Regions from separate parts of the Homo sapiens genome. Here regions 1, 3 and 4 are each linked to region 2. Evidence: fine-mapped expression QTL. A gene starts in region 2. Each other region holds a variant in brackets. All regions are shown on one strand. Distances are between the middles of the regions.

Region 1 (7,480 bases), 220 kb before region 2:
ACTTCCACCAGGCACAGTGGCTCATGCCTGTAATCCCAACACTTTGGGAGGCCAAGGTGGGTGATTACTTGAGACTAGGAGTTTGAGACCACCCTGGGCAACATAGTGAAACCCAGTGTCTACAATAAATACAAAAAATTAGCCAGGCATGGTGTTGTGTGCCTGTAGTCCCAAGCTACCCGGGAGGCTGAGGTGGGTAGATTGCTCAAGCCTGGGAGTTCAAGGCTGGAGTGAGCTATGATTGACACCACTGCATTCCAGTGTGGGTGACTCTGTCTCTAAAAAAAAATGAAGATGAGGGCAGGCATGGTGGCTCATGCCTGTAATCCCAGCACTTTGGGAGGCCGAGGCGGATGGATCACCTGTGGTCAGGAGTTCGAGACCAGCCTGGCTAACATGGTGAAACCCCATCTCTACTAAAATACAAAAATTAGCTGGGCATGGTGGTGGGTGCCTATAATCCCAGCTACTCTGGAGGCTGAGGCATGAGAATCACTTGAACCTAGGCGGCAGAGGTTGCAGTGAGCCGAGATCACACCACTGCACTCCAGCCTGGACAAGAGGGAAACTCCATCTCAAAAAGAAAGAAAGAAAGAAAAAAAAATGAAGAAGGAGAAGAAGAAGGAGTAGAAAAGAAAGAGAAGAAATATGAATTCTCAAATCCCACCCCAGTCCTGCCGAATCAGGAACTTGGGGACTGGGCCCCGGGACTCGGTTTTAACAAGCTCTCCTGGAGACTCTGCTGTGCACTGAGGTTGGGGAAGCGCTGGTTTGGTTTCCAACCCAGCTGTACTTTCTGAGCCTCTGGGGAGCTTTGCAAACACAGCTGACCTTAGCTCCAGGGACTGCAGGATTGCATTGTTGTTGTTTCACTCCCAAGGTAATTGGAATATGCAGCAAGGTTTGAGAAGCACAAGTGTCATACAAAGAACAGGGCTTTGAAGTTTGAGAGCTGGGTTCAAATTCCTGTTCTGACATGACTCACATATGCCTTAAGCTTTCTAAGTCCTACTTGGTCCGTCTGTTGAAAGGTGGAAGTGAGCCCTGAATGAGAAGCTGGCATCATTTCTGGAGCATGGCAGGTGCCCAGTGAACATTAGCTCTCATCTTCTAAGCTCCCAGCACAAGCATGGCCCCCCAGCTGATGCCAGAACACATGTTGGGAGTGTCGGAAGGAGGACCCAGGTGAGGGGAGCATGTCATGGGATGGGACCTTAGAAGCCCTGTCCAGTGCTGAAAGCTGACCATATGGACACACAAGTGTGTACCCTGTGCCGTGAGGTTTGGAGCTGGCAGGAGGTGCAGCTGAGCCATGCATGTGGCGTGTGGGAATTGCGAGGGCTCTGGGCTTGTATGAGTCAGCTTGGAGCTGCCAGAACAAAACAGTGCAGGCTCGGGGGGGCTTGCACAACGCACAGCCCCGGATGCCGGAAGTCCAGGATCAAGGTGTCTGCAGGGTTGGTTGCTCCTGAAGCCTCTCCATGGCGTGGGACGGCTGTCTTCTCCCTGCGTCCACACGTGGCCGCCCCTTTGTGTGGGTCTGTGTCATCATCTCTTATAAGCACAGCAGTCAGACTGGATCAGGGCCATCCTCATGACCTGCCCACCTCCCTAAGACCCCACCTCCTAATATCATTGCCTTGGGGGTTAGGATTTCAATCTATGAATTTTGGGGTGGAGGCACACAGACATTGACATCTCCTGAATTGGCCTCTGGTTGGCCCCTTGTGTGATGAAATGGGTGCCGCAGTGAAGCTCATGAGCAGGGCTGGTCCTGGTTGGTGTGCAGTTACCTGCGGGCCAAATTCTACATCTTCAGCTCTACAATCGTGGGTTTCTCTCAAACATATGAAGTGCAGACAGCCTCAAAATCCCCAGTGCAGGGGGCTGGGGGAGTGGGAGGGAAACAGTGGCTACCCATGCCACCCCTTAGCTCGGCCCTCTGCCCCGGAGCCAGAAGTTTCCGGAGAGTTCTCTGTCCCCTCGCTGTCCCATCAGCCTCAGCTTCTCAGGTCCGTCCCAGACATCCCCACCTGAACCAGTGGCCACACACCCTGTCCTCCCCTGCTCCAGCCCCGTGTTCCTCACATGAGGAGGATGCTCCTCACCTGCTGGCATCGGACCAACTTCCTTGTTGCCAAAAATCCAGGTACCTCTTCCCAGAGCTCACTGTGCTCTGGCTCGGGCCGTGGGGCAGCCTCGTTTGTCCCGCACCTTCCTTCCTTTCCTTCCAGCTGCCTCTGCCCAGCCAGCAGTGTCTTGCTCGGTCCTTTCCAGCCTGTGTGTGGATCTGTGTTTCCAGGCCCCTGTCCTCCCTCTCTCTGCCGTCCCCCTCTCTGGTGGTCTCTGACGTCACTTCTAGGCTGTAAAAATGCAGGGCTGACACCTCCACCCTTATTTCCCGGGTCCCCGTGCCATCCCACATTCCCTGAAGACTTGGCAGATGTGGAAATCCCATTGGCTCCCCTGCTCCAGTCCCTTTCCTTCTGGACGGCCCACAGACCTGCCGGGAAAGCTGGGGAGGCTCATGGGCCGGGGCTGCAGCTCTGGGCTGGCCTAGATCAGAGCGCAAATTAAAAAAAATTTTTTTTGAGACAGGGTCTTGCTCCAGGCTGGAGTACAGTGGTGCAATTATGGCTCACTGCAGCCTCAAACTCCTGGGCTCAAGCCATCCCGAGTAGCCCAACCACAGGGGTGCATCACCATGCCCAGCTTATTATTATTATTATTTTGTAGAGATGGGAGTCTCACTATGTTGCCCAGGCTGGTCTCAGACTCCTGGACTCAAGCAATCCTCCTGCCTTGGCCTCCTCAAGTGCTGGGATTGCAGGTGGAGCCACTGCATGGCCAGGAGGCACTTTTCGTGCTTCCTCTCTGATCTTGACAATGATTTTCCAGGGTGAACAGAAGGGTTCCCATTTCACAGAGCAGGCTCAGTGACATCCCATGGTGACACAGGTGGTGGGTGGCAGGATGCAGCGGTGGAGCCCATCTCTCCCACCCCTGAGTCTCCTGACTCCTCCCCTCCAGCCCTCATGAGCCGGCGGGCGGAGGCGACTCCAGCTTTCCCTGTTAGCAACGGGAGTCACTGCCCCTCCCCTGGCTACGACCAAAGGCCCATTTCACTTCCCATCACCTCCTGTCCCCGTGTCCCCACCGGACCAGGAAGAGGACAGTCACAGCCTGGGTGCTTAACTTGGCACTGTGTGGGTAAATTAGGCAAATGACTTAGCTGATCAGAGCCTCAGTTTCCCCAGGGGTAAAATGGGGTAACGTCTTTGTGTAGAGATGAGAGGTTATTTGAAGGGTGGGACACCCATTCCAGGGCCTGAGAAGCCGCACCCAGTGCCACCTCCTCTGTTCGCCCCTCTTCCTTTCCCTCAAGTGTTTCTTTTCACTCCTGGACTTCACTCCTGTGTGGCACCCGACAGTGGTGGCTATGCATTTACATGCTCTGTCCCAGGATGGGCTCCTTCCCATCCTACCCGCCCTCCTGCCGCAGACCTGGCAGGCCCAGATGAGGCATCAGGCAGCACCCACTCTGCATATCCTGAGCTGGAGTCCAGGCCAAGCAGTCTCCGAATGACAGTTTCGTGGCTGAGGCCACGCAGCGGCGCAGAAACGCCTCCGTCTTTCCACCTCAAGAGGCACTTTGTGAAGGTCCTTGCATTCAGTACTCTGGCTCCTTGCTTGCCGAGCAGTCTTCTGCCCACTTCCTTCCCATGCGGCTTCAATAGGGAGAGAAGCTGACCAGCAAAATCCCACGCCCCTTGGCCCACGTGTCACAGATCAATGGGTGGGCACTGTGAGGACAGCGTGGCTTCCCTAGAGCCTGAGTGGCTCAGCCTCACCCATCTGCCAGGGTACCCTCCAGCTGTGATTTCTCAATATAAATGCAAATCAGGTGACCGACTGTGAGTCTCTTGGCTCCAGCAGCGCCTGTCCTCAAGGGCGGTCTGTTCCCGTTTTTGCTCTTGGAATCAGGATTAGAGCTCTGGGCAGCTGCCTGGGCGCTGGAGAACACCCCTTTGACCCTGCAGCAGGGAGATGACAAAGTCACGGAGGCTCCAGGACAGTGGGGACCATGCATCTCACCGACATGGAGATGCTTAGAATTTAGGGGGTCCAGCAACTTAGATGGGAAAAATGATATTGTTATTTTCACAACCTCCAACTGAAATGGAACACTCTACAACGAATGTCGACAACAAAATAGGAACTTTGTCACTAATTAAAAAATCACAGATATTTTCATCACATTAATTATTGTAGCTTTTTCAAAACATTGTTTATGCTCATCACTACTTTAAATTATGGCAGCAATTAGACAGGAAGACTTGTTATTTAATGCATTAAGAAGCACATATTAGGAAAATATTTTGATAACTGTGTCTTGGCATAATTAGACTTCTTTATAATCCCATGTAATCAATGTGTTTTATTCATTTGAACACCTTCTGAGAGGAGGCCCTGAGTTGATGGCTCACGCCAAAGGAGTCCATGGCATCAACAGGGTGAAGGGGCTCAACAGGGTCTGCGACTGCCTCTCTTAGGATGAAGGAATCCTGAGACCACGCTGCCACCCCTGTCCATCTGCTGCTGCCAGAATTCTTCCAGTGATGGCAAGTGTGGTGGGCACTGGGCTGCTCAATGAGTAGTCATCCCTTCCCTGTCCTCCTTGCCAGCAAAACCCACTTCCATGACATGGGAGGAGGTGGGAGGTGA[C/T]TGCTTCCCGGCTTCCCAAGGACCCGGCTCTGGGCAGTGCGACCCGGGAAGACTAAGAGGTGGGGAGTCTAAGGGGTGGGGAGTCTAAGAGGTGGGGAGACTAAGGGGTGGGGAGACTAAGGGGTGGGGTGGTCACTGGCAAAGGTGCATCTTCCCTAAGTCAAAAAACAAAGATGCACAGGAGGCAGCACGCTCCAGGTCTGTTCAGTGATAAATGTTAGACGTTTGTCCACTTCAAGTCTCATGTTGAACTCTGACCCTCAATGTTGGAGGTGAGGCGTGGTGGAAGTGTTTGGACTGTGGGGGTGGGTTCCTCCTGAATGGCTTGGTGCCATTATCACAGGAGTGAGTGAGAACTGATTGTTGAAAAGAGCCTGGCTCCTCCCGCCCCCCTCGCCATGCCATGCCTGCTCCCCTCTGCCTTCCACCACCAGTGGAAGCTTCCTGAGGCCTCCCCAGAAGCAGACGCTGGAGCCATGCTCCTCGTACGACCTGCAGAACCATGAGCCAAATAACCTACCGTTTCCAATATTCCTTTACAGCAACGTGAACAGACGGAGACCCGAGCACCCACTGTACTAAATGAACCACGGTGGGAGGGGATGGAGGGGAGGGGCGCTCGGATAGGGAGCAGTTTGTCCACAGCAATGTCAAGCCCCAGGATCAACGTGGAATCCCATCACCTTTGGATTTCTTGTTATACAAGACAACATCTCTTTTAATCTCGCCTCCATTTAGGTGGGCTTTTTATGGAAGCTCTCCAATAGACAATTCTGCCAACTTGAGAGCAAGAAGGACAGTCTCAGGGAAACTCCGCAGCGAATGTGAATCAGTGGCTTCGGTGCCGCGCAAGGGTTCTTTCCACGCCCTTCAGGAGGCTGGCACCTTGTTGAGACTGGGTCTTTATTCCTGAAGAGGAAATCATGGCTACTGCTCTACAATGCTCCTTATAATTGCATCCAGAGTCTGGTTCAAATCTGACTCACCCGTGGGTGTCACCTGGGCTGAGGACCAAAAGGTCTTCTCTGTAGCCCCTGTCCAGACCACCCTAGCCTGGGACCCCAGGAGCTCAGGCAGAAACTGCTAAGCGAACACTCCTCTTTGGAACCCTAGGGGAGACGACAGCTTTTGGAAACAGGATGTATGTTATTTGCAGGCACAAACAATGCATAAAATCAAATACAGCAATTGTATTAGGAGATTGCTGAGAAATAGGCAAGAACTGCTGAGAAGAGAGTTTTTTCTTCTCTTCTGTAGGTAAGTCCATGAACAGAAGAGTGTGTCAGAGGCATTTTATTTTTCTGGTTGAATATTCTTGACAATGTGAAGTTATACCGCAGAATCCAATCACTGAGTTGGGTTGGATATTTCATTCTGAAAAGCGTTGCAAGTCTGACCCTCTCTGCTCCAGTCAGGAACTCCTGTCATTCCCCACCCCCACAGCCTTCCCCAGCATTCACAATGCTCACACACGGGCCCGCCTGCCAGTCTGTCCTCTTCCTCCCAGGCTGTCCCCATCAGGGGATCTTGCTGCTATGTCCTGGTGATGGGACTTCTCAGACGCTGAGCCCCTGCCGGCAACGCTCTCCCTCGCCAAGTCCGAATCCCACAGAACCTTTGAGACACGGCTCCAACAAGGGTGCAGCACCCGCCAGGCCGAGAGCCTGCATTTGGCTTGTCCTATTTGTCACCATTTAACGTGTTTCCTCCTCAGCCTGGGTCTTCTTTGGGACTATCAGCACAACACAGGTTTTCAACAAATAGTTACCGAATAAATAAACCTCTCCCTGTTGCCAGAGCAGGCACCACACACGGGATCCCTAAGGGGCTCCAGTGGGTGCTACAAAACGATGCTGAGAGTTCCTTTAGTCTTCTCAGATGGCAGCAAATTTTTGGTGTCCCAAATAATAGGGAAAGAAAATGGATTACATGTGGTCTCTAGAAGGTTTCAGACACTCATTTGGGCCAGTCCTGCCAGTGGCCAACCTCCTACTTCACCCCAATGTCAATCAAAATTGCTAAATAATTTGGGCCAGGTGCGGTGGCTCATGCCTGTAATCCCAGTACTTTGGGAGGCCGAGGCGGGTGGATCACTTCAGGTCAGGAGTTTGAGACCAGCCTGGGCAACATGGTGAGACCTCGTCTCTACTAAAAATACAAAAAAGTAGCCGGGTGTGGTGGTGGGGGCCTGTAATCCCAGCTACTCGGGAGGCTGAGGCAGGAGAATCACTTGAACCCAGGAGACAGAGGTTGCAGTGAGCCAAGATTGCACCACTGCGCTCCAGCCTGGGCGACAAAGTGAGACTCTGTCTTGAAAAAAAAATTGTTAAATAATTGGTCAAGGTTATGTTTCCTTGAACCCTTGTGGGGCTGTTCAAATGTAGGTACTTTTGCTTCTGTTGTTGAGATGGGAATCTTACTTCGTTGCCCAGGCTGGTCTTAAACTCCTGGGCTAAGCGATCCTCCTGCCTCAGCCTCCTGAATAGCTGGGATTACAGGCACGCACTACTGTGGCCTGGCTCAAATGCAGGAATTTAAAAGGTACCGAAGGTCAGGTGCAGTGGCTCACGCCTGTAATCCCAGCACTTTGGGAGGCCGAAGCTGGCGGATCACTTGAGGTCAGGAGTTCAAGACCAGCCTGGCCAATATGGTGAAACCTCATCTCTACTAAAAATTCAAAACATTAGCCAGGTATGGTGGTGAGTGCCTGTAATCCCAGCTACCTTGGAGGCTGAAGCGGGAGAATCGCTGGAAT
Region 2 (7,480 bases):
TAGAGATAGCAGTTATTCAGCACCCACTAACAGTATTTAACTCTCCGAACAAGGCCATGAGGTAAGAATGATTACTCCCACTGCAAAGATGAGGAAACTGAGGGTCAGAGAGGTTCAATGCATCAGTGAAGGTCACTAAGCACAAAGAGGTAAACAGCTAGGTCTCACTCAATGCCAATAAGTGGATTTGTGCCATTTCCCTTTAATGTCTACTACTAGCTCAAAAACATTACTAGTTCCCAAATGGTTCAGCTTGGCATTTGAAGCCCGTTACAATTTAGTTCTGAATTTCTCCAACTTTACACCCTAACGTTCCCCTCCATGTGTACCATGGTCTAGCCCGGCAAGGTCCTTCACTGTTCCAAGAAATAACCTGCCCGCCTCCCCGCATGATTCCTAGAAGATCCCACCCAAAGTCCCCCACCCTTGGACTCTCGGGCAAGGGCCACAGGACTCGTGCCAGCTCAGGGAATAAGGGTGATGCTACTGTGCAAAGTGGACAGGCTCCCAGGGCTCCGGATCATGTCCCTCAACTAACACCGTCCCTTACCTCCCAGCATGCAGGCACACAGGCAAGGGGTCTCAGGCTCCACACACTCTTACAGCAGAGAGAAAACCCTTCCCTTTCCACCCTAAACAGCCACACTTCACCCACAGGCAGCTTCATTTCCAGAGAAATCCCTTCCTCTCTTCTGCGGCTCCATCCACTGCCAACGTACCAAAGCCCAGGGGAGACTTAACATGGTTAAAATTTTAAAGCATTTAAGAAGCTCAAAGGAAAGGCACGCTTGAAGTGCAAATCATCAATTTAGGGGGAAAGAGCAAAATATGGGGGGAAAGGGTATGGACACAAATGTAAATGAAACATAATTTTAAACAATATTTTGAATAAACTGCTTTAACATACATGTCCTGAGCCTGGGTGTTGAGTCCCGAGTTGTGCGGCAGTGCCTGAGATTGGTCTTCAGCACTCCCTCCTGCTTAGTTTACTAAACCTGCAATCTGAGGTGAGCTGGCTCTCTGGGTTTTGCCAAGTGGAGAATAACAGTTCTGTGATGAGTTACTTAACAGGCAGGGCACACAATGACAAGCCTGGGCTGGGCTGCTGAAGCAGCAGAAATCCTAGTTGGACTCCCCTCAGACGATCCCTAAAGCCCAATACTGCAGCCTAGTACCCTATGAAAAACGTCAGGATGTGCAGAAACTGGCTAAATATGGAATAAAAGCCCTGACTTGAACAGTATGAGGCAAGAGAAAAAATATAGGTCCACTTATCTCTAAAAAAACTATAGCTAGCTTTTAAATTCTGCCTTTCTGTGCATGGCCCGCTATCTTTTTTTATGTCCATACTTTACAAGCCAAACAAACCACATTTTTTTTTTGGTATGAGAATGAAATAAATTTAGAGACACTTCTAGTGTCTAAATCCATGGAAACAATTGGGGAAGAAAGAAGACTACACGATTTTCCTATACATCAGGCATTCGTGACAGCAGGGCTCTATTTACCTCCTTCAGAAACCATCTTAAGGCTTCTCTTTAACCCTGGGTCCACCACACGAAGTTAATGAGTCTTCCACTGCAATTTCAAAAGCTATTGCATTTACACACCTCTTCCTCAACCGACAAATCACTAAAGCATCCTAAGGGGTAGCATTAAATTTTATGGTTCGTTGACAGAAAGAATAGAATCCCAAATCACCAATCCATGTGTAATTAATTGTTCATTTCCCCCACTTTTTCTACCTGGTCTCCGTACCTGTCTATATTGCCACCAGGAATTCTTTAAAAAAAACAAAACAAAACAAAACAAAACAAAAAAAAACAAACTAAGAATCACACACTTCAGGAGTGTCTGAAGACTTCTGCATGGAAGACCCCTCACACCATCCAGGAACTGAAGCCCACCAGAGTGAGGAATCAGCCTCCGGGAGGCGAACGAGCACGCTTGCTCTTTCTAATCACGTGTACTAATGAAAGTGGCAGACTAAGGAAAGAGAAACGCCAAGGGTGGCTTATGTGTTTGGTTTTCTTTGCATGAAAGGCAGAAAGCTTTGCCAGGTCTCACCAGCACACCAGGCTATGCAGAGTGGCCAAGGCACAGTTTACCGGGAAGCAAAGTTTTAAAAATCATTCCAGTTTTACACGATTATATCTCTGAATGGACTGCACGGCTTTTGCTGCCTGCATGCTCTTTGCTGTTCAAGAATAAACCAAGTCTTCGCGTACATATACTACCTATACCATTTTTTACAAAAACAACGCTAAGAGTACAATGTCAGCTCAGAAGCTAGGCCGATTCAGCACGTGGAAAGAGGGCTTTATTTCTGCCCTTCTAGATAAAACAAATCCACGTAATTTACCAGAAACCACATAAGGCACCCATTCCACCTAACATCTTCGGCTATGAATGAATGAATGAAGCAAAGAAAAAACCTCTGAAGCAGCCAAACCCCGGCGTGGACATTTAGGGGTCTGACTTCAGAACTGAAGTCTGTTCATCTAGTTAGTTCCCTCTGGCTTGTTTCAGGATACCACTCTCTTGTTCCAACCCAACCACCCGTAGTCCATCTCCATTAACTCAGAATTTTCTGGGTTTGCGGTGACACTAAATGTCACAGTAACGAGGGTTACAGGAATTCGGAAAAGATAACGCTGCTTTCAAAGCCGAGGAGCCAGTAAAACACTACAAACGTCCCCTGCCGGCATGCTCCAGCACACAGCCCGACGCCCTGCTCTCCCGGCCGGCGCTCGGCCGCAGGACCGCGCTGTCCCGGCTCCTCTCGGCGCTCACCATCCTCCCGAATGCCCAGGGCCCGGCCGTCCGGAGCGGCGGCACGAGGACGCGGAACCGCAGAGCGGCTCACACGGTCCCCACAGCCAGATCACTCGGCCCCTGGAGCATGTTAAAAACACAGCCACAGAAGAGGGATTCTCCCTGAAGCGGGGAGTGGGGATGGAAAATGCAAGCGCAGGAGGCCACGTCCGGCTCGCGCGGGAGGGCCGGGGGCCGGGTTGGGCAGAGGGTAACGCTGGGGCCGCAAGGGAACGGCCGGGACTGGCCTCGCTCGGGGCGCAGGGGCGCACTGGCCCCTGGCTCGCACGGGCCCTGGGGCTTTACTTGGCACGGGAGCGGCCGCCCCTGCCCCCCAAAGGTAAAGGGCAAAGAAGGTGGCAGAAACACGGAACCCACGCCCCGCGGAGTGACAGGGGGAAAGGGACGAGGATTTGCAGCCGCTGGTATCAAAGGGCTGAAAAGAAACTTGGACTCCTCTCTCCTGCTGTACATGACGCGTTGGAAAAGCGGTCGCCTCTCTCTCCTCTCCTCCCCACCCCCTTTGTGTTTCCCAACACCCCCATCCCTAAACTTCCAACCGCAGGGGATGGGGCTCCCGGCGGCCGGACAAGACTCGAATTACGACGAGCAGAGAGAGGGGCGACGTCCACGAGAGGGGGCAGAGAAAGGCTGCGGGGGCCGCCCTTTCGGAGCCCGGCGTGCGCAGAGGGGCCGGGTGCACCCCTGCCCTGGGCACTCGGCGCGGAGGCCCGGGACGAGGGCGGGCGACGCGAGCGGAGGTCCGGGCGGAGGAGCGCAGGGGCGGCGCGGAGAGGGCAGGGGACAGGGGCGCAGGGTGGGGGGTGGGCGCAGGGGCCCGGCCGCGGCAGGGCGCTCCACTCACCTTCCTGCCGGCGCCGCCGCCCGCGCCCCCGGCCAGCGCAGAGCCGCCCCCCGAGTACATGTAGTAGGCGATGCCCAGCACCCACAGGAAGGCGAAGCAGAGCAGCATCCGCGAGCGCCGCCGCATTCTCCCAACTCGGCCGCCGGCGGGGCCGCCGCTGCTCGCGAGTGCTGCCTGGGCCGGCCGCGGGCGCGGTGGGGGCCGGGGGAGGAGCGGAGGAAGGGGAAGGGCGCGGCGGCGGCTCCTCCTCCCGCGCGGTGCTACTGCTCGGCGGCGGCGCGCACTCGGCGCCCGAGCTCCGCCCCGGGCCGGCGGCGCCGCGCGGCACCAGAGCAGGAAGCAGCGGCCTCGGAGGCGGCGAGGGGGGTCAGGGAGCAAAGGGCGACCAATCGGCGGCGGCTGCGGGGGCCGGGGCGCGGGCCGCGGGAGGGGACTGCCGCGTCTCCATGGCTGCAGCACGCCGGGCTCCGCCGTGAGGGCCTGGGCGCCGCCCCGCCCCCGGCCGCCCGCCCCTCAGCGTGCTCCCCCCGCCGGCCGCCCCCTCCCCCGTGAGTGACAGGTGGCTGCCCCGGGACCCGACTGGAGCGCGCGCACACGTGGGCAAAGAGCCTTGCTCACGCACACGGGGCCTCTCGATTACGGGGGCGGTAGTGGCCTCGGTGCTTCCTGCCCAGACTGTCACCTCTTCAGCCTTGGTCTTTGGGGCCACCTCAGACCCTTAACGGGCTTGCTCTTATTGGCCAACTGACCTGAGTTTTTGGTGCAAACCGCCCGCTTGAACCCGACTTTGCTGCTGCTTGCTGCAGTTTTCTCACTAATCTTGCAGCAAAACATTCCTGACCCGCTGGTATCGATTTTATTTATCTATATAGGCAGATGTGGAGGTTTTGAGTTGGTAGGAACTGAGAAGGTAATTTTCAAAAGAACATTTTTCTGTGGGTGACAGAGCTATCAATGGTAGAGTTGTTCTTTTCAATAAACACAAAATGAGGAAGAAGGAAAGCAATAATATATTGTTTAAAATCTTTTCTTTCTCATTCGTTGCGTTCTTTAAAAAGCACATTAAGCATCTTTAACGATACAAGAAAACGATCTGTCTTGTAACATAATCTATGTAACCTTGGTGATGCCCTTGCAACACGCAAAGCTTCCAGTGTTCCTAAGAAAGACAGAAATTTTACTTAGAACTTGATATATTAAATGTTTTCAGGAGCTTCTCGGTCAGAGGATAATGGCAGCTGCCTGATATAAGTCCGTACCCATATCCTCAACGAAACAAAAACAAGCCTTCAGCATTACTTAGAGAGAATGCCATGAACTGAACATTAAATTACTTAAGTAGAAGAAAGAAAAGATACCAAATTCCAACTGAGCTCCCTCCACTATTGCCAAGGACTTAAGTGAAGTACAGGGTTGTCACCTCTTTATAAATAGAAAGTCCAACACCAAGAACTAAAAACTGAACAGAGGTCAGGTGCCTTATTGATCAAGGGAAGAGATTTGAAAGAAAATGGGACAAGAGGTGAGAGGCTTGAAGGAGCCTTGTTTCTGGGAAAAAGTCAGATAAATACGAAAAGAAGATAATGTCCTTCAGAGGCCTGACAATGAAGGGAAAGAAGGAAGTCAGAAGGGAAAATTACAAATCCTGCAGAAATGAAAGAGAAGACAGCCAGTCCCCTCCCCAAACACCAACATTATCTATTAAAAACTGCATTTCAGTACACAGATAAAAGAAAACACTCTTGAACCGGGAACCCTGCCTCAAAATGCCTAGTAACAGAAAAACATCAAATCAACTGCATTTAAAGATTCTGCAAAAAGAAAACAGAAATCACATTTCTGATGATAAAAAATAAATCATAACATTTTCGCTGATGAAAACCCCCACAATAAAAACCATGAAGCATAAGAAAATTGTAATACCACATGTCAAACTGAACAAAGTGTCACGTATTTGTATACACATACACACACACACACATATCTAGGATAAGAAATTTCAAGAACTGAAGACAGACTAGACAAAAATTAGGAAGAAATGCAACAAGGGTTGAGCAAATTCAAGAAGGAAATTGAAAGTAATGACAAAAACTATCCCAGAAACAAAGAATAATTACAAGGTGTCCAAGGGAAAATATATTCAAATGAAAATATGTAAAAGGACACTGAAGAATGGCAAGAAAACAATCAAGAAATTGAAAATAATATAAAGATAGAAGTAAAAAGGTTCAGAGAGAAGAGGTTAAAATAAAAGCCAGGAAAGGAAGACCAAAATACATGTTAAGTGGAGTCCCTAAAGTACAAACATTAAACAATAAAACCTAATTAATATTAAAACTATAACCCCAGAAAATAATCCAGGAATAAGGGAAAATTTAAATGTACATGTCAAAAGTGACTTCCATGTACCTTGGGAAATGATCTGGAATTATCAACTCCTAAATATATTTTAGTAAAACGATTAGATTTTAAAGGCAAAAAAGATCAAATTGCTTATAGAGATAAAAATTTATGCTGGCATCAGACTTCTGAACAGCAACATGCAAAGCCAGGCAACAGTGGAGCAGCATTAACAAGGAACAAAAGTGCCAGGCAGGCTGGGCATAGTGGCTCATGCCTGTAATCCCAGCACTTTGGGAGGCCAGAGTGGGTGGATCACCTGAGGTCAGGAGTTCAAGACCAGCCTGGCCAAAGTGGTGAAACCCCATCACTAAAAAAAATATGAAACTTAGCCGGCAGGTGCCTGTAATCGCAGCTACTCGAGAGGCTGAGGTGGAAGAATCATTTGAACCCGGGAGGCAGAGGTTGCAGTGAGCTGAGATCATGCCATTGCACTCCAGCCTGGGTGACAGAGCGAGACTCCATGACACACACACAAAAAAGTACCAGGCAGTGATTTTTATACCCAGCCCTCAAGTGTCAAGGTTGTAGGCAAACAGATATGACCTGAATGCAAAAATTCAGAGAACGTGACTCACATGGGCCTTTCATGAGGAATCTTAGAGAATGAGCTTCCTCCAACCAAGAGACAGCTGAGGAAGCCAGCAGAGTGACTAATGGAGAGCATTTTGTATATTCAGAAGGTGAAAGACTAGTGTATATACATTATACTTTCTGATAAACTTAGAACAGGTGCAACTAAAGACAACTGGAGGAGAAGGGGAAGAGCGAAGGGAAAATAGAATAATATCATTGTCTGCAATATCAGTAGCAGGTAGTAGTGAAAGGATACCATATAAAACAGACAGACCAGATGTTAAAAGGTTAGAAACAAAATATAGGAATTAAGGGTAATATATTAAAAATATAAATAAAAATCACTACAACAAAATATATGTATTCCCAAATATTGGAAACCCTATTCCAAAACCCCAAAAGTTCTAAAAATAGCAAAGAATACATACCAAATAATGAAAGAAACACAGTAAGTGTGGCACAGTGATGCAGTAGTTATAATAGGAAACAATATGACACAGCTGAGACCAACCCACATCAGATATAACAATTTATAAGTGGGCTCAGTTCACCCTTTAAAATAAAAGATTTTCAAATGTAGGCATAACGGAAACCCCAACTCTGAAAAAGCAGGTGCTGTGATTCTGATATCAAACAAAACAGAGTAGGCCAAAAAGCATTAAATGAGATGAAGAGGGACAATTTATAGCCCAAAACTTCCCTTCCTAAACACTTATCAATTGTATATCATTAGGATTTGATCTGCAAAGTAAAATCATTATTAGTTTGATGGAATAAGCGATGTATGATAGAGATTAAACTTTAGACAATGTTAGAGGTAGAAGA
Region 3 (7,480 bases), 190 kb before region 2:
GGGCTATAACTAGCAGCCGCCTTAGTGCCCACAGTTAAGAATCTGTTGTATAGGCATACCAGGCAGGAGGTGTAGACATCATATTCTGGGGCCAGACGCAGAGGCAGAATGGGTGCTTTGCGGTTGAGTGCACATGGCCGAGAGGACAGAGCTGGCAGGAAGACCAGGGCCCTGCAACCAGCAACTGTGACCAGTGCACCCTTGCCGCTGCAGCAGAGCCTGGTCCGAAGCTGATGACAGAGCTGATGCACCAAAGTGTGTGACATTCTATCTGGCCCTGGTGCTGGCTGCCAAAGAGGCTGTGGCCAGCAGGAGCCAGGTGCTTCCTCATAGACATCACCCATCCCAGGAGAAAGGTGGCAGCTGGGACTTCTAACATCAGGACCCCCCCAACTCCTGCTCTCTCTGGGCCTGCAGGTGACCTGGCTTCCCCATGCACATACCTGGTTTCCCCCAGCATTGTGACATTCATAAACTCCAACCACACCATCAGCAAAGTGTCCCAAAGTGTCGAGGCAGTTAGTTCCCTGCTGCAAGGCCCCAAAAGCTATATCCTGATGGTCTGGAACCCTGAAAAACAACGTGAGAATCACCTGCTTCACTGCACATGACCACCAGCTCCCGTCCACCAGCCCCTTTGCTCAGTGGCCTCATGACAGGTGACAGGAACGAGAGAAAGACCCAGTGACTAGGCATCGTGCCTCTTCCTACCACAGGTAGTGTGTGTCAGGGACACGGCATTTCTCCCAGGCTCTGGACTTCCAACACTTTAAGACTGTATGTTGCAGAAGTATTCTTTATATTCTATATCAGGTCATTTTTTTTTTTTTTTTTTTTTGGAAAGGAAGGAAAAGCTCCTGATACTCTTCAATGTTAGTCTTATTGGAAGTCATTTAGAAAATCAATGTGGTCAGATCCTGTTGCCTTGAACTTTCCAATACACTTAGGATCTGACCTTTATCCAGTAAAGACGGGAAAGGTGGGCAGACTTGTCAGGTGGTCTAATGTGAACAAAGCCACAGCCACGGGGAAGAACAACGTGCTTCAGAACCAGATCCAAACCTCAGCCCACCTCTGCCAGGTGCTGGCTTTCAGGCAAGACTCACTTTCTCTGAAGCTCGATTTGCCCTTTGGTAGGCTATGGGCTACCCAGATCTGCTGCAAGTGTTACATAGAACATTTCGTGTAAAGCACACGGCCCAGTGCCTGGCTCGTAGGAGGCACTCAGTAAACGGCGGTGATATTACAGACACAAAACACGAGGCTGATGTCTCCCTCACCCCCCACAGACAGGGGAAGCAGATTTGCCAGCCAGGATGGTGCTCAGTGCCTCAGATGTGGTCTTCAGTGGGTGCGGGGCCCAGTGTCACTACAAACCATGGGTGACCTCTGTGAGAAATGGCAGTCAACTGTGACTGAAAAAGCAAAGTGAGTGGCATGGTTGGGTTAAAATCCACTGAATTGAAGCCCCTCTTTGGCTGACGGAGAGTTGATGAGCAGCCGCCTTAGTGCCCACAGTCAAGAATCTGTTGTATAGGGACACCAGGCAGGAGGTGTAGACATCATATTCTGGGGCCAGACACAGAGGCAGAATGGGTTCTTTTGGGTTGAGTGCACATGGCCGAGAGGACAGAGCTGGCAGGAAGAAGACCAGGGCCCTGCAACCAGCAACTGTGACCAGTGCACCCTTGCCGCTGCAGGTGACCATCGCTGGTGACCATCTGGTGCTCTCAATCCCCAGCAAAAGCTGTCCTGCACGGCAGGGATCCGAGGGAGAAGGACGCTGTGTTCTCTCCTGTTCTCCTCCTAGGGGGCATGGGCCACCTGGCGCCTGGCATGTTACTTGAAAAGCAGAGGAAACGGTTCCAAAGAGCCAAGTGAGCGAACAGGAGCAACAGAGAGAGGCCGCATTACCTAACTGTCCAACAAATCTCCGTGACAAGGGCTCTGAAGGAGCTGTTAGCGGAAAGATAATGGTGGCAAGTCTTGCGTTCGCAGGCACTGTGCTGGAGATATGTGAGCCGCTGTAAAATGCTCTGGGAATATTTAGAATAAGGAATGTGCCGCATTAAGGCACGACCTGCCTGACAGTCCCTTTAAGAAGATGAAGTGCAGATGGCTCCTCCACCCCAGCGGATCTATAGGTCTTCTCACGAGGTTATCAGCAGGTCCCTCCAGATGGGGAGCTCGTATTCGCTTAAAACAAGAGGCTGGGTGTGGAAATAATGCTCAGAAAGGTGTTTCTGCCATGAATCCTCCGGAGGGACGTGGGGCAGCAGCATTATTACTTCCGTTTCACATGTGATTAACCTAGCTGGGAGGAGGGAGCCTCGTGGGGGCTGTTATCTGCTGGCCCACAGGAGCAGCAAGGGTGAGCGCAGCAGATCGGAGGCATGCAAAGGCGCCTGGCGGGGGGATCGAGGGCTGGCTGCAGACACTGCATGCTTGCGGAGGCTGGGGACTGCTCCTGGTCACTCGAAGAGCCTGTCAGACACCAGTCCTTCAGGTCACCCAGCCCATCACCTTGCCAATGGAGAACAAGCCAAAAACAAGGTGAGGCCCGGGGGACTGCCTCTGGGACTCCGAAGCATGGGAGGGCAGCTCTGCAGGACAGAGACAGCAGCAGGCCAACTTGGGAGCAGATTCTCAGCTCCACACCATGGAGTGAGACCACAGGCTCTCACTGGGGCCCAGGTGCCCAATCTCATGCCTGCAGCCCCACCTCCATTTCCCCTCTGCTGCTTCTATGGCCTTACTGGCTTCTAAGCCCTTACAAAGTGAAACCCCAGATCCCTGGGGACTTACCTTAACTCTGGATAGACATTTTCAAGGTACCATTTGAAAGGCTTGCAGCTGAGTTTCTTCCTAAGCTCCAATCTGCTCTGAATACTGGAGAAGAGGGAAATAAGATTCCTTTATAAATTTTAAGAATAGATGGGCTTTCTACATCAAACTTGAAAATCTGCTGAGGAGAACAGGGTTGGGGCAGGTGGTGTGGTGTGGACTGCCCATGCTCCTGTGCCCACAACCCCTTCCCGCCTTGGCACCTGGGTAGCTGAATTCAACGCTGGGGGCAGCCCCTTACCTCCCACCCCCACACCCCAAGAATCCCCAGTAATTGTGAGAAGGCAGAACTGCCACTTACTTTCCATAAGGAACGTTTCTAGCAGAAGGCACTGCTGCATAATAGAAATTTTTGTATTCATCCATCCAGACCTCTGCTGCCCGGCGGGTGTTTCTAGAAAGAAAATAAATCTTGAGGTGTGATTTCCTTTCTTTCTGTCTGCATCACTCCATTTGCACCTGTCTGCTGGCGTGTGACTGAGGCGGCTCCCTCTGGGTGTGCAGCAGCTCCAGCTGGGATCACGGCACACAGCAGAGGGTGGGCT[G/A]TCCCCACCAGCACCTCGAGCTGGACCTGTGGGGAGCCAGCCTCAGCGGGTGCTTACTGAACCATTGGAATGGCTTTCTTGTCACACAGATGGTCAAAGGGCAAAAGGCAAAGTGGAAATTACAGCACGAGCCAATATTTTAAAGGAGGGACTGGGGTCTATATCTTAAAGAAGGACAAAAGAAAGTTACTCTTTAAAAACTCTCACATTACGCGTCCACAGAGGGCCGGGGCCACAGAGCACAGCAAGGAGATTCCAGGCCCCACGGCCTTCTCCGTCACGGCTACGACACTATCAGACAGCTCTGCATTAAAGTTCAGACTACATAAGATAAGAGTTCCTGGGAAAATCACTTTCTTTTCTGCGGGGCTAAGCTGAAAGACTGCCATGTTTGCACTAGCTTTTTTTTTTTTTGATGGAGTCTCGCTCTGCTGCCAAGCTGGAGTGCAGTGGCGAGATCTCGGCTCACTGAAACCTCCGCCTCCCGGGTTCAAGCGATTCTCCTGCCTGAGCTTCCTGAGCAGCTGGGACTATAGGCATGTACCACCACACCCAGCTAAAATTTTTGTGTAATTTTAGTAGAGACGGTTTCACCACATTAGCCAGGATGGTCTCGATCTCTTGACCTTGTGATCCACTCGCCTCAGCTTCCCAAAGTGCTGGGATTACAGGCGTGAGCCACCGCGCCCAGCCGGCTTTTCTAGAAGGAAAGAAAACCATGTACTTAAATCTCATAGAGAGAACCATGATTTGCCATAAATAAAGCCCCTGGGACAAGCTACTCTTGAATGTCTGACATGCATTAAAAGCTATCATCTGCATAGGTATCAGCAGTGTATTCTGCCAAGAATTATCTTAAAGCATCCATGAAGTAGCAAGCACACAGCTAACCTCTTTGCTCCCATATTCTGGTCTCGGCTATAAGGTGGACTCCCACTTCAGGCTATAGCTAGCCCTCCTTAAGAACCCCATAGGAAGGCACTGTGTTCTTCCAAAATAAATACAGTAAGGAGGTAATGCTCGCCTTTTAAAATAATTCCTTAAAATGGCGAAACTTTCAACTGATCTGAGATACCATTATTAAAATAATTTCTGTATGGGGCCTATATCTTTCATATAAGGTGATATATATACTTTTTCATTTTAGTAAGTAGAATATGGACTATTATCCATAATGCCATTCAACACAGATAAGAACATATGAATGCACCTATTCTCTGACCCAGCAGCTCTACTTCTAGAAATTTATCTCAAGGCAGCAATCAATTAGGAATGAAATATACATGTGAAAATATGCTCACTTCTGCTTTGTTTATAATAGCAAAAAAAAAAAAAAAAAAGAGAAACTTTATGACTAAATATGAGGAAGGAATCAAATGAAATATTCTGTGACCACTAAAAACATGAGTGTGCATCTTACATGTTGACAGAAATGATGTCCTGGACTTGTGGGAAAATAAAATAGTTTGCAGAATTGCATATAGTGGATATGTGTGTAGAGGCAGAAGGAGAGCCAGTGAGCAAACAAGAGAGAGAGACAGAAATAGATACTGACAGACGAATTCATCAAATTATGAGAGTGTTATGGCACAACTGGTTTGGTGATGAGACTGATGAATTTTTACTTTCTCTCTATTAAAAAATATACAGATACAACAATGAGTACTTAAAGTGCTGGGGGATACTGGATCATACATATCATTTCTCAGAAGAGCCACTAAACATTGTTAGTGGGGTTTTGCTAAGTGACCTATGCCTTAACCTATGCCTAGTCAGTTTTTAACCAGTTATTAACTTAAATACTTGTAACATCTGGCACCTGGATTTCCCCAACAGGGACATGAAAGGATTTGATTCCAGAATGTCCTAGGTTCCTTTCAGCCTTAATGATTTAAAGGTTTTATCAACTCCAGTCATACTGTTTTCAAATCACTCAAGTTTTTAAGTGACTAAATCACTTAAAAATTCCTAAACGCAAAGCAACTCTTTTCTGTCTTTGTAATAGAAAAGGATAACTAGGCAGCCCCAAGGAATGATCTCCATGTGCTACTCAGTGCTAGCTCCTTTTATTCATTTATTTATTGGTTCACTCAGGTATTTATTTGGTATCTACACCAAACAGTCTCAGTGCTGCAGATACAGTGGCACCGAGGGAGACTCACTTTTGTCCAGGCCCTCCTTGTTTTTGCAGGTATTTGCAAGTATTTAGGTAGTATTAAATAAGTATTAAATAAATATTAAATGTCATCTATTACAAGTTGGGCATCCCTAATCCAAAATGTCCTAACATCCAAAACTTTTTGAGCACCAACATGAGATAGTGACGAAACTGCCTTTGCAAAAAATTTAACAATGACAAAATTGACAGTTTAAGGCATCTGACCTGACTGACTCCATCTAACTTCTAACGTCTAAACTGCCCTTGTTCACTCCTGGGCATAGGCAGAACTAACTTTGGGAGAAACTTAGTTTATAGTTTAACTTTAAAACAAAGATGGTAACAGCCCTTTCCCCAAACAAACCCTCTTTTTGTCTGGGTACCAGACTGCCTTTGTTGGACTAACAAATCAGCCACAGATTTGCAACTTCCCCAATTACTCCTGCAGATAACATCACCATTGCAGAACGTAAGATTGGCCTTTTGTAATGTCTTTTCAGGCTTCTGCACTTCTGATGACTCCATCCAGATCTCCAGCTTGTCCTGTGGACCCATCCATGCAGAAGCAGACTCGGCAGGCACAAGGACCATTTTCCACACCCCTATGATTGCACCTCATCCAATCAGCAGCACCCACTCCCTAGTCCCCAGCTCCCTCCAGATTATCCTTGAAAAACCCTAGCCTCTGAATTTTGGGGGAGATTGACTTAAGTAATAAAATTCCAGTCTCCCACTTAGCCAGCTCTGTGTGAACTAAACTCTTTCTCTATTGCAATTCCCATCTTGGTAAGTCAGCTCCATCTGGGCAGCGGGCAAGGTGAATCCAGTGGGCGGTCACAGTGACGCCTTTGCTTTCTGATGGTTTAATGTACACAAACTTTGTTTCATGCAGAAAATTATGAAAAGTATTGTATTAAATTAACTTCAGGCTATGTGTATAAGGTCTATATAAAACAAACAAATTTTGTACTTTGACTTAGGTCCCAGCCCCAAGATATCTCATTAGGTAGTACATATAAATATTCCATATCCTGAAAAAGTCAAAAATCCAAAATATTTCTTGTCTCAAGCATTTTGGATAAAAGATATTCAACCTGTATAGGAGATTAAGAGAAACTGCAGCTGGAAAGAGACCTCAGAAATACAGTGATATAATTCCACTTCTTTATCTTTCAGATGAGTCAACTGAGGTAAAGAGCAACCTGGCTGAAGGTCAACAGCAGGGCTTTTTAATCAGATCCATGCTGCCCCAAAATAATGAAACCCTGGATCAGCTTCTTTTCCAAATCTTGAGAATACAGGCTCCTGGGCTGTGAAATACAATTTGAAAATGTTTCTCTTCTAACAAAGAGTGCAATGTCTTGAGTACTTTAACATACTGTTTTCTGAAATCTCACTGTTTGCTGGTAGGTATCAATGGCTTTGGTGTGGGGCGTCTGATATGTCTATATAAAGAATCTCATGCTGCCCCAGGAAAAAGCACATATATCCATATTTTTGTTTGATTTTGTAAAGCTTATTGTACAAGATCACATTTTTGTTTTAATAAAGAACAAAAATGAAGTTTCAACATTTGTGAAGAAACATAGTTTTTGAGAGAAGATAATTTGGTCAGAAGCATTACTTGTTATTTTGCCTTCTATTAAAGTTTTCTCAGAAATCAGATTCCCTATGTGAAAAATCTGACTTCTGTATAATAGGTGTATTGTATAATCTGTACTTTTAAGAAGTTTAAAAATGGCCAGGCACGGTGGCTCACGTCTATAATCCCAGCACTTTGGGAGGCTGAGGCGGGTGGATCACTTGAGGTCAGGAGTTCAAGACCAGTTTGGCCAACATGGAGAAATGTACTACTAAAAATACAAAATCAGCTGGGTGTGGTGGCGCATGCCTGTAATCCCTGCTACTCAGGAGGCTGAGGCAGGGGAGTCGC
Region 4 (7,009 bases), 210 kb before region 2:
AACTGTAAAAATATTTGTCCCCTGGTTTGGAGCACAGGGTCTGGGTGCGAGTGCCAAGGGCTGGCTCCAGGCAGGTACACAGGAAGGACGTGACCTTGAGCAGGCTAGCAACTTCCTTCACCAGCTTCCCCTGTGGCTGTAAAATGCAAATGTATTTAAGGGCTTGGCTGGGTGCCTGGCACATCATAAACACTCCACAAATGATAATGATTATTATTACAAGTAAGAATAACCAACCAAAGGGCACAGCAATAAAAGCGCATCTGCAAAAGGTGATAAGAAACAGCCACTGAGCAGGAGCTGCAGAAGGCTGACCCCAATCCCAGTCCCCACACCCACCCCACCCAGCCCTCACACACCAGGACAGACTCTGGCCAGCAAAGAGCGGTATCTAGAAAGTATCTTCTCTTTATTTAAGTTAAACAATTTTCAAGGATGGTTTCCATCTATAAAATGGACAAAGTACAAGCTCTGTACAGCAGTTCTTTTTAAAAATCAACTGGAAAAAAAAATTACCAAACTATATTTTGAATTTGCAAAACATACTCACAGATACCATCATCTGAGCTTTTATGAGGACATAAGAAAGGACCAGCACAGAGAAGACAACTAACTTCGGCACGCTTTGCTCGAAGGGCTCTTAGGAAAGAATTCTGAGTTTTAAAAACAGGAGTGGGAGGGTGAGATAGTCCTGATGATTAAAAACTAACGCAACCGCAGTAAGTCACTTTGGCACACTGTGTCATGTAAACATAGCTCACCGCAAAGGACCCCTCCCCGGCCCACCCCTGCTCTTGACGCCCGGACCATCCAAAGCCGCCTCCCAGCTCAGGGACAGGACGCCGCCCCCAGGGCATGGGCCGCACAAGGGTCTGGGTAGACACGTGGGATGATAGGAAGGCTGAGAGGGCCTAGGGGTGCGGGCGGGGTAAAGGTGAAGGGGCAAAGGATTCGTCAGAAAACGTGATTTTAAAACGAGCCAGATTCATCCATTTCCCTCCTTACAGTAGTAGCAGCTCGCAGGTCACAGGGTCTGACAGAAGAACCTGGGTGCTGGGGGCTACGCACACCCTGCTCTGGCCTGCACTCCACAGCCTCGCACAGGTACCTAAGGGGGTTTTCCTCAGGCTCCCCCCGAGCGCCCACCGTGAAAGACAGAAGCGTGCGGAGTTACTCCAGCGTGGGGGCACGCTGCCCACTCACAACACATCTGGTTGCATGGCAGGGGAGGCGGGAAGAGAAGACCTATAGGGCAGCCCTCCAGCCAGGCTTCCACCTCGGGGCCGCTGTCCTACAGTGCACACATGTGGGGCTCCCGCCGGGGAGGAAGACACACAGTGGCCCCTTTCATACAAGACACAGGGAGGAGCATGGCACCGGCACAACCTCCCAGGGTGGCTCCTAACTCCAAGGCCGCCGCTGTCCCACCGAGGGGCCTGCAGGTGTGCCTAACTGACGCTTTTCTCAGACTGCCAGGCCGTGCCAGCCTCTCTGAGACTGAGCATCTGTGTGTGCGGCGCTGGAGAAGGCGGCCAGGAGTGGAGGAGGAAGCAGGGCACCGACCACAGAGTGGCAGGGGTGACGAGGAACATTCCTGAGCACCCAGGTAGAAGCCAGGCACCTCTCCCCGTTATGACTTTCAGTTCATAACTGTCTGTGGTTTAACAGGACCCCAAGGCTCCTGTCTCCCGCCCTGAATCCTCAGTGTAAATGAGCAGGTATTGTTTGGTTCTGACCCTTCCTAATTCTTTCCCCAAAGCCCCCTGAAGCAGTCATCTTGGCCAGGCGGGGTGTGGGAGGGAGCTGCGGGCGGGGCAGGACTCGCTGCCTGGCTGGAGCTCCCCAGGCCAGCAGGTGTGCAGGACTGTGAGCCAGGCCTGTGCCCTGGCTGACGGGCTCATCCCTGACACTGCTGGCCATTAATTCTGAAGGCCCAGCGTGCAGGGCTCAGATCACAATGAAGCCAATACTAGCGTGTGACAGCTGCCTGGCATCATTGGTCTGCCCTGTCGCCAGGGGGCAGCGGTATTGCTGGCTCACACAGAGCTATGGGGTATGTCTTATATTCCTTAGAGAAAAGAAATTTAATGTAAAAAGACCCAAAGTGATATCTGTCAAAATAAGTAACCGCTCCAGGTTCACAGATACGCACAGCACGCAAGGTGGATTCTGACGCACAGTAGGGACTCTCAGGCTGACGCCCAACAGGGATGCCGGGGCCGAGGCCGGTGGTCTGGAGGAAGCCCCCCAGCTGGCCACAGCAGTAGCACCAACTGGCTGATCGGGCTCCAGGGGACAAAGGCCACCTCCTCCCTCTGTGAGAAACTGGCCCCA[C/A]CGGGCTCTGGCCCCTTCTCCCGGAAGCTGCGAACGGCTTTGTGGGGAATATACAAGATGACGATGATCTACAGAAACCATAGGGAACTGACCGTACATTCTTTCTCTATATAGCTTTATATTTAGTGTCCCACCATAGAAAACTTCATCCTCAATATAGCAAGTACATGAGGTGGAGGGGAGTCTGGCCCAGGAAGACACTTGCGAATGGAGGAGCAGAGAGAGGGACTATTGACGTAAACCTGCCACGTGACACGACTCGGCTTTGTGGAAACCATACGTGATTTCGAAGGGATTGAAAATGGAGATTTCAAGAGTTCTCCTCGCTCCCCTGGGGCATGTGTGCCCCCTCCTCCCGCCCTGTCCTCAGCTCGCACGCATCCGTTCAGTTGCTTCTACCACTCCCCAGTCGGTTGTCGCTGGGTGTCACTCAGTTGCGGAGCCGGCAGAAGTGAAAGCTGGAAGGAAGAGGGGCGCTCCGGCCTGGGGAAGGGGGCCCGGCTGGGCTGCACCGAGAGGAGGGGGAGGGCAGTTCTCGCTTCTTGCCGCTGCTGTGTCTGCACAGTCGTCCGTGCCTTGCCGAAGTTTGACTTTCAGACCATGATGGAATACTGAGGTATATTAGTTTCGCGGAAAGTTTAAGAAACATAATCAATAATGTGATCACCAGACTCCACCCAATGGTGCAGGAGACAGGACGGCAGGGCCTCCCGGACCCTCCTACTGCTGCAGGTTGAGCGTGAACTTCCACTGCTGCGAAAGGGCCGGGCCACACACCTCCACGCTTAGGCCCCCGCTCTTGGCCGTGCGACTGTCCAGGCACAGGTTGCTGCCCACGTGCCTCAGCTTGGAGTTGCCCTCGATCTGTTCCCATTTCTGCAAGACACAGGAGAGTGCCTTAGAGTGTGGGCACAAGCAAAGGAGTACAAACAGATTCGTGTGAATTCAGGACCTTGTGGCTGCATTAAAAACTCACAGATAGACACGTTTTTCCCAGCCTCTCATCTGAACGGCCGAGGAGCTTGCAGCAGCCCCACAGGAAACCAGCCACAGGTGCTGCTGGGACCCAGGAAGGAAACATATTCTCTGCCTTGGATCAAAACTCAGAACGTCTCCTGCCCCAAACTTTCTGTGGGTGTCCCCTCCTCTGAGCCCCAGAGCTCTGGGCACCCACCCCTTCGTCATTAACACAGGATTTGATGTAGGGGAATTTGCATGCCTTCGTATGAAAGCTTGATCCAGTGATGGTTCACCCCAAGAAGGGATCCACACAATGCAGGGCCAGATCCTCCCCTGGCTGTTGGAAAGCAGCCCTGCCTGGAGGCCTTGGTCTGGGCACCTCCATGCTCCCACTTAGGGCTTTCTGCTCGGGGGAGCCAGAGGAACGGTGTCAGGCCAAATGTCAGGAAGAGAGATGGTTGTTTGAACAGAACATAGCATTGAGAAGCCTATTTCTATGTAGTCTGTTCTCTACTGGTGTGCAAGCTCCTTGGTGGATATGAGAAACTTGTCTCTGCTACCCTTGAGCCCCCTGGTGCTCTGTATGGCAGGGACCAATGTTTGCTGAGTTCTGAACATGCCGCTTGTAAAGTACAGGGTACGATGCCTCTTTACTAACACTCAAATCAAGCGAACAACCAAACTCAACCCACATACCCGTTACCCACCAACTAAGCCAGAATCAAAGTGCACAACCCAGCCTGAAGGAAATCTGAGGAGCCCTGTTTAGCAAGTAACATAAATACCCCTTTCAGCCTGAGTGCAGGCGGCTCACGACACTAATCCCAGCACTTTGGGAGGCCGAGGCAGGAAGATCGCTTGAGGCCAGGAGTTCAAGACCAGCCTGGGCAACATAGCAAGAACCCATCTCTACAAACATTTTTTTTAAAAAAAATTAGCAGGGCATGGTGGTGCATGCCTGTTGTCCTAGCTCCTTGCAGGCTGAGGTGGGAGGATCGCTTGGGCACAGGAGTTCGAGGCTGCAGTGAGCTATGGTCATACCCACCCCTGCACTCCAGTCTTAAGCAACAGAGTGAGATCCTGTCTCTTAAAAAAAAAAAAAAAAAGAAAGAAAAACAGAAAAATCCCCCTTTAAAAATCTCTAATGTTTGTTCTTAAAAAAAAAAAGTAACATTTTTTTCTTCCCCAAAGCTCGTTTCAAATAATGAAGTCTGTGGTTCTAATTAATTTTTTATACTGTGTGCACGAAAGCTCCTTCACCTAAGTATTTTTTGCAAATCCTTTTGACATTGCAGAATTAAATTTTCTCACTCCTGCCTCCCTTTCCCCTTTGACTCTGCAAATATGCACAACATATGAAAACATGGACGTGCCTGGAAACCAAATGTTCCAACTGGCAAAGCCAGTTCAGTTCCAAGATAAAATTTGCTAAGGAGCTTCCTCTTGAGGGGCCAGTGAGTGAGGCAGGGAGGAGCCGGTGCAGGCAGAGGAGCCCAGTGCTGGGGACCCGACCTGCGCGAAACACCACAAGGATGTTGTCACTTGTACCCTGCTTTCCTTATTTCCGTCCACCTGCTCACCTGGAGTTCTTGCCAGCAGGGAAAGACAGTGCAATCAGAGGAGCCGGGGAGGCTTTTGCTAAGTGCCTGTCATTGCCTCTTTCATTTCCAGCTCCCTCGTTGCTGTCAATCACCCCTCATGCTGTTTTTCCCCATTGTCATGTAAAGTGTGTATGTATTGAGGCTGCCCTGTTACTCTGAGCAGCCAGGAATCTTCTCAACAAAGAATTCGGAATGAACGGAATCTGATTCTGGCCACTGGAGGGACTGCCTGTCATGTGTCAAAGCATCAGCTAAATCAAGAACCTTAGAAAAACAACAACAAAACCCCAGCTCCGTCTCGCACAGGTGGCCTTGTGGGCTCTGATCTGTCTGTCTGATGGGATTGTGGTTGGGGGTGGGGAGCGCAGATTTTCAAGGCAGTCAGACTCTACTGAAACAGCCCCCACATCCTCTCTAATAGCCTGAGTCTTGGGGTTTAAAACCTAACAGATCCCCATTTATACATGCCATACATCCAGAAAAACTTATTATTTATAGGTCTTTTCATGCTTCACAAAGGTCCTAAGCCGTGTCAGTTATGGTTCCCCAAAACTGGGACTGAAGCAGAAACACCTGTCAATTCTTGAAATTAAGCAATATTGAAGTAATATTTGTTTTTTAAAAAGGTGTCAACTAAAGTCATCACTTTATCAATCCATTACATCCAAAGACATCTCTGCTCCGTTACATCCCAGGGGAATGTGTTTGAGACTCACCCAGTACTTGGCTCAGCAGATGCCAGCCTTGCCCTCGAGGAGCTTCCTCTCGAGGGGCCAATGAGTGAGGCAATTTCTAGGTGGTTTGGGTCCAAGCGGTGCTAGCCTTCTCTTGTTTAACAGGCACTCCCTTACACATTTTGGTATCAAGTCATCAACACAGATGGACATTTAGAGATGCGGATTGTGAGCAGAACCCTAGAGAGGGGCTCCCACTGCCAGGACAGGCTGGGACTCTGCAGAGCAGGGAAGGAGGAGCACCCAGAGCTGGCGCAGGGGTTTGGAGACAGACAGGTGAAAGAGGGCCCTCTGCAGGCGTCTCCCTGACAACTGGGGTCAGAACCGGGGACTCGGTCCTGGCCTTGGTCTTCCCAGATGACTCCAGGGTGGAGGCAATGACTTTCTGAGACTTTTCTGTTGTGAAATCAGGGTTAGACTAGAAGCTGGCTTAGGCTCTTGGCTCCAGTAGGTTCTGTGCCTCAGTTTCCCTACATCCCATCTATCTCTAAGGACCGACTGTAAGAACAGGGGCAGGCACTCCAAGTATGGGCATACAGGGAGGACCTTTTGTGCTTGCATTTCTATTCCTGACACTAACTGTTACCCCATGCCTTGAGAAAGGGTGTGTCCACAAGCTGCCACAAGGGAATACGTCAGAGAAAACCGGCTTACAAGGCAGGTAGAAAGTCTATTCTGAAATGTTTAAAGAAACTGTGTGTATATGTGTGTGTGTGTATATATGTATATATATGTGGTGTGTATATATATGTATATATCTGTGGTGTCTATATATGTATATATGTGTTTATATATGTATATATATGTGGCATGTATATATACGTATATATATGTGGCATGTATATACGTATATATATGTGGCATGTATATATACGTATATATATGTGGCATGTATATATACGTATATATATGTGGCATGTATATATACGTATATATATGTGGCATGTATATATGTATGTATCTGTGGTGTCTATGTATATATGTGGTGTTTATATATGTATATATCTGTGGCATTTATATATGTATATCTATGTGGCATGTATATACATGTATATATGTGGCATGTATATTTGTATATATATGTGGCATGTATATATATGTATATATCTGTGGTGTATGTATATATGTATATATATGTGGTGTTTGTATATATATATGTGGTGTGTATATGTGGTGTGTATATATATGTGGTGTTTACATATGTATACATGTGGCATGTATATATGTTGTGCTTGTATATCTATGTGGCGTATATATATGTGGTGTTTATATAAATGTAGCATGTATCTATATGTATATATATGGTGTGTTTATATGTATATATATGTGGCGTTTATATATGTATATCTATGTGGCATGTATATATATGTATGTATCTGT

Evidence for each region. PIP is the estimated chance that this variant, and not a neighbour inherited with it, causes the effect. A credible set is the group of variants that fine-mapping cannot tell apart.
Region 1: its variant is the best candidate, but not a certain one, in a credible set for the expression of GALNT2 in whole blood (INTERVAL, PIP 0.51).
Region 3: its variant is the best candidate, but not a certain one, in a credible set for the expression of GALNT2 in whole blood (TOPMed, PIP 0.58).
Region 4: its variant is the best candidate, but not a certain one, in a credible set for the expression of GALNT2 in whole blood (INTERVAL, PIP 0.82).

What each region holds. Positions count from the first base shown.
Region 1 is chr1:230,282,692-230,290,171 of GRCh38, reverse strand. No RefSeq gene overlaps it. Among named protein-coding and RNA genes, the nearest start is that of PGBD5, 140 kb to the left of the region's middle. RefSeq lists enhancers at 1,540-2,039, 3,224-3,723. The variant C/T (reference allele first, on the strand shown) is at 4,726.
Region 2 is chr1:230,063,606-230,071,085 of GRCh38, reverse strand. It overlaps GALNT2 (polypeptide N-acetylgalactosaminyltransferase 2), which reads right to left and starts at 3,848. Exons shown (of 16, transcript NM_004481.5): 1 at 3,680-3,848. The coding sequence starts at 3,805. RefSeq lists enhancers at 2,039-2,118, 4,473-4,632 and silencers at 3,033-3,092, 3,533-4,342.
Region 3 is chr1:230,258,331-230,265,810 of GRCh38, reverse strand. GALNT2 (polypeptide N-acetylgalactosaminyltransferase 2) reads right to left here. Exons shown (of 16, transcript NM_004481.5): 12 at 3,146-3,238; 13 at 2,806-2,889; 14 at 444-570. It overlaps LOC124904542, which reads left to right. Exons shown (of 5, transcript XR_007066928.1): 4 at 6,048-6,333; 5 at 6,724-7,154. Among named protein-coding and RNA genes, the nearest start is that of PGBD5, 160 kb to the left of the region's middle. RefSeq lists enhancers at 1-194, 195-695. The variant G/A (reference allele first, on the strand shown) is at 3,390.
Region 4 is chr1:230,275,504-230,282,512 of GRCh38, reverse strand. GALNT2 (polypeptide N-acetylgalactosaminyltransferase 2) reads right to left here. Exons shown (of 16, transcript NM_004481.5): 16 at 391-3,210. The coding sequence ends at 3,055. Among named protein-coding and RNA genes, the nearest start is that of PGBD5, 150 kb to the left of the region's middle. RefSeq lists an enhancer at 54-213. The variant C/A (reference allele first, on the strand shown) is at 2,335.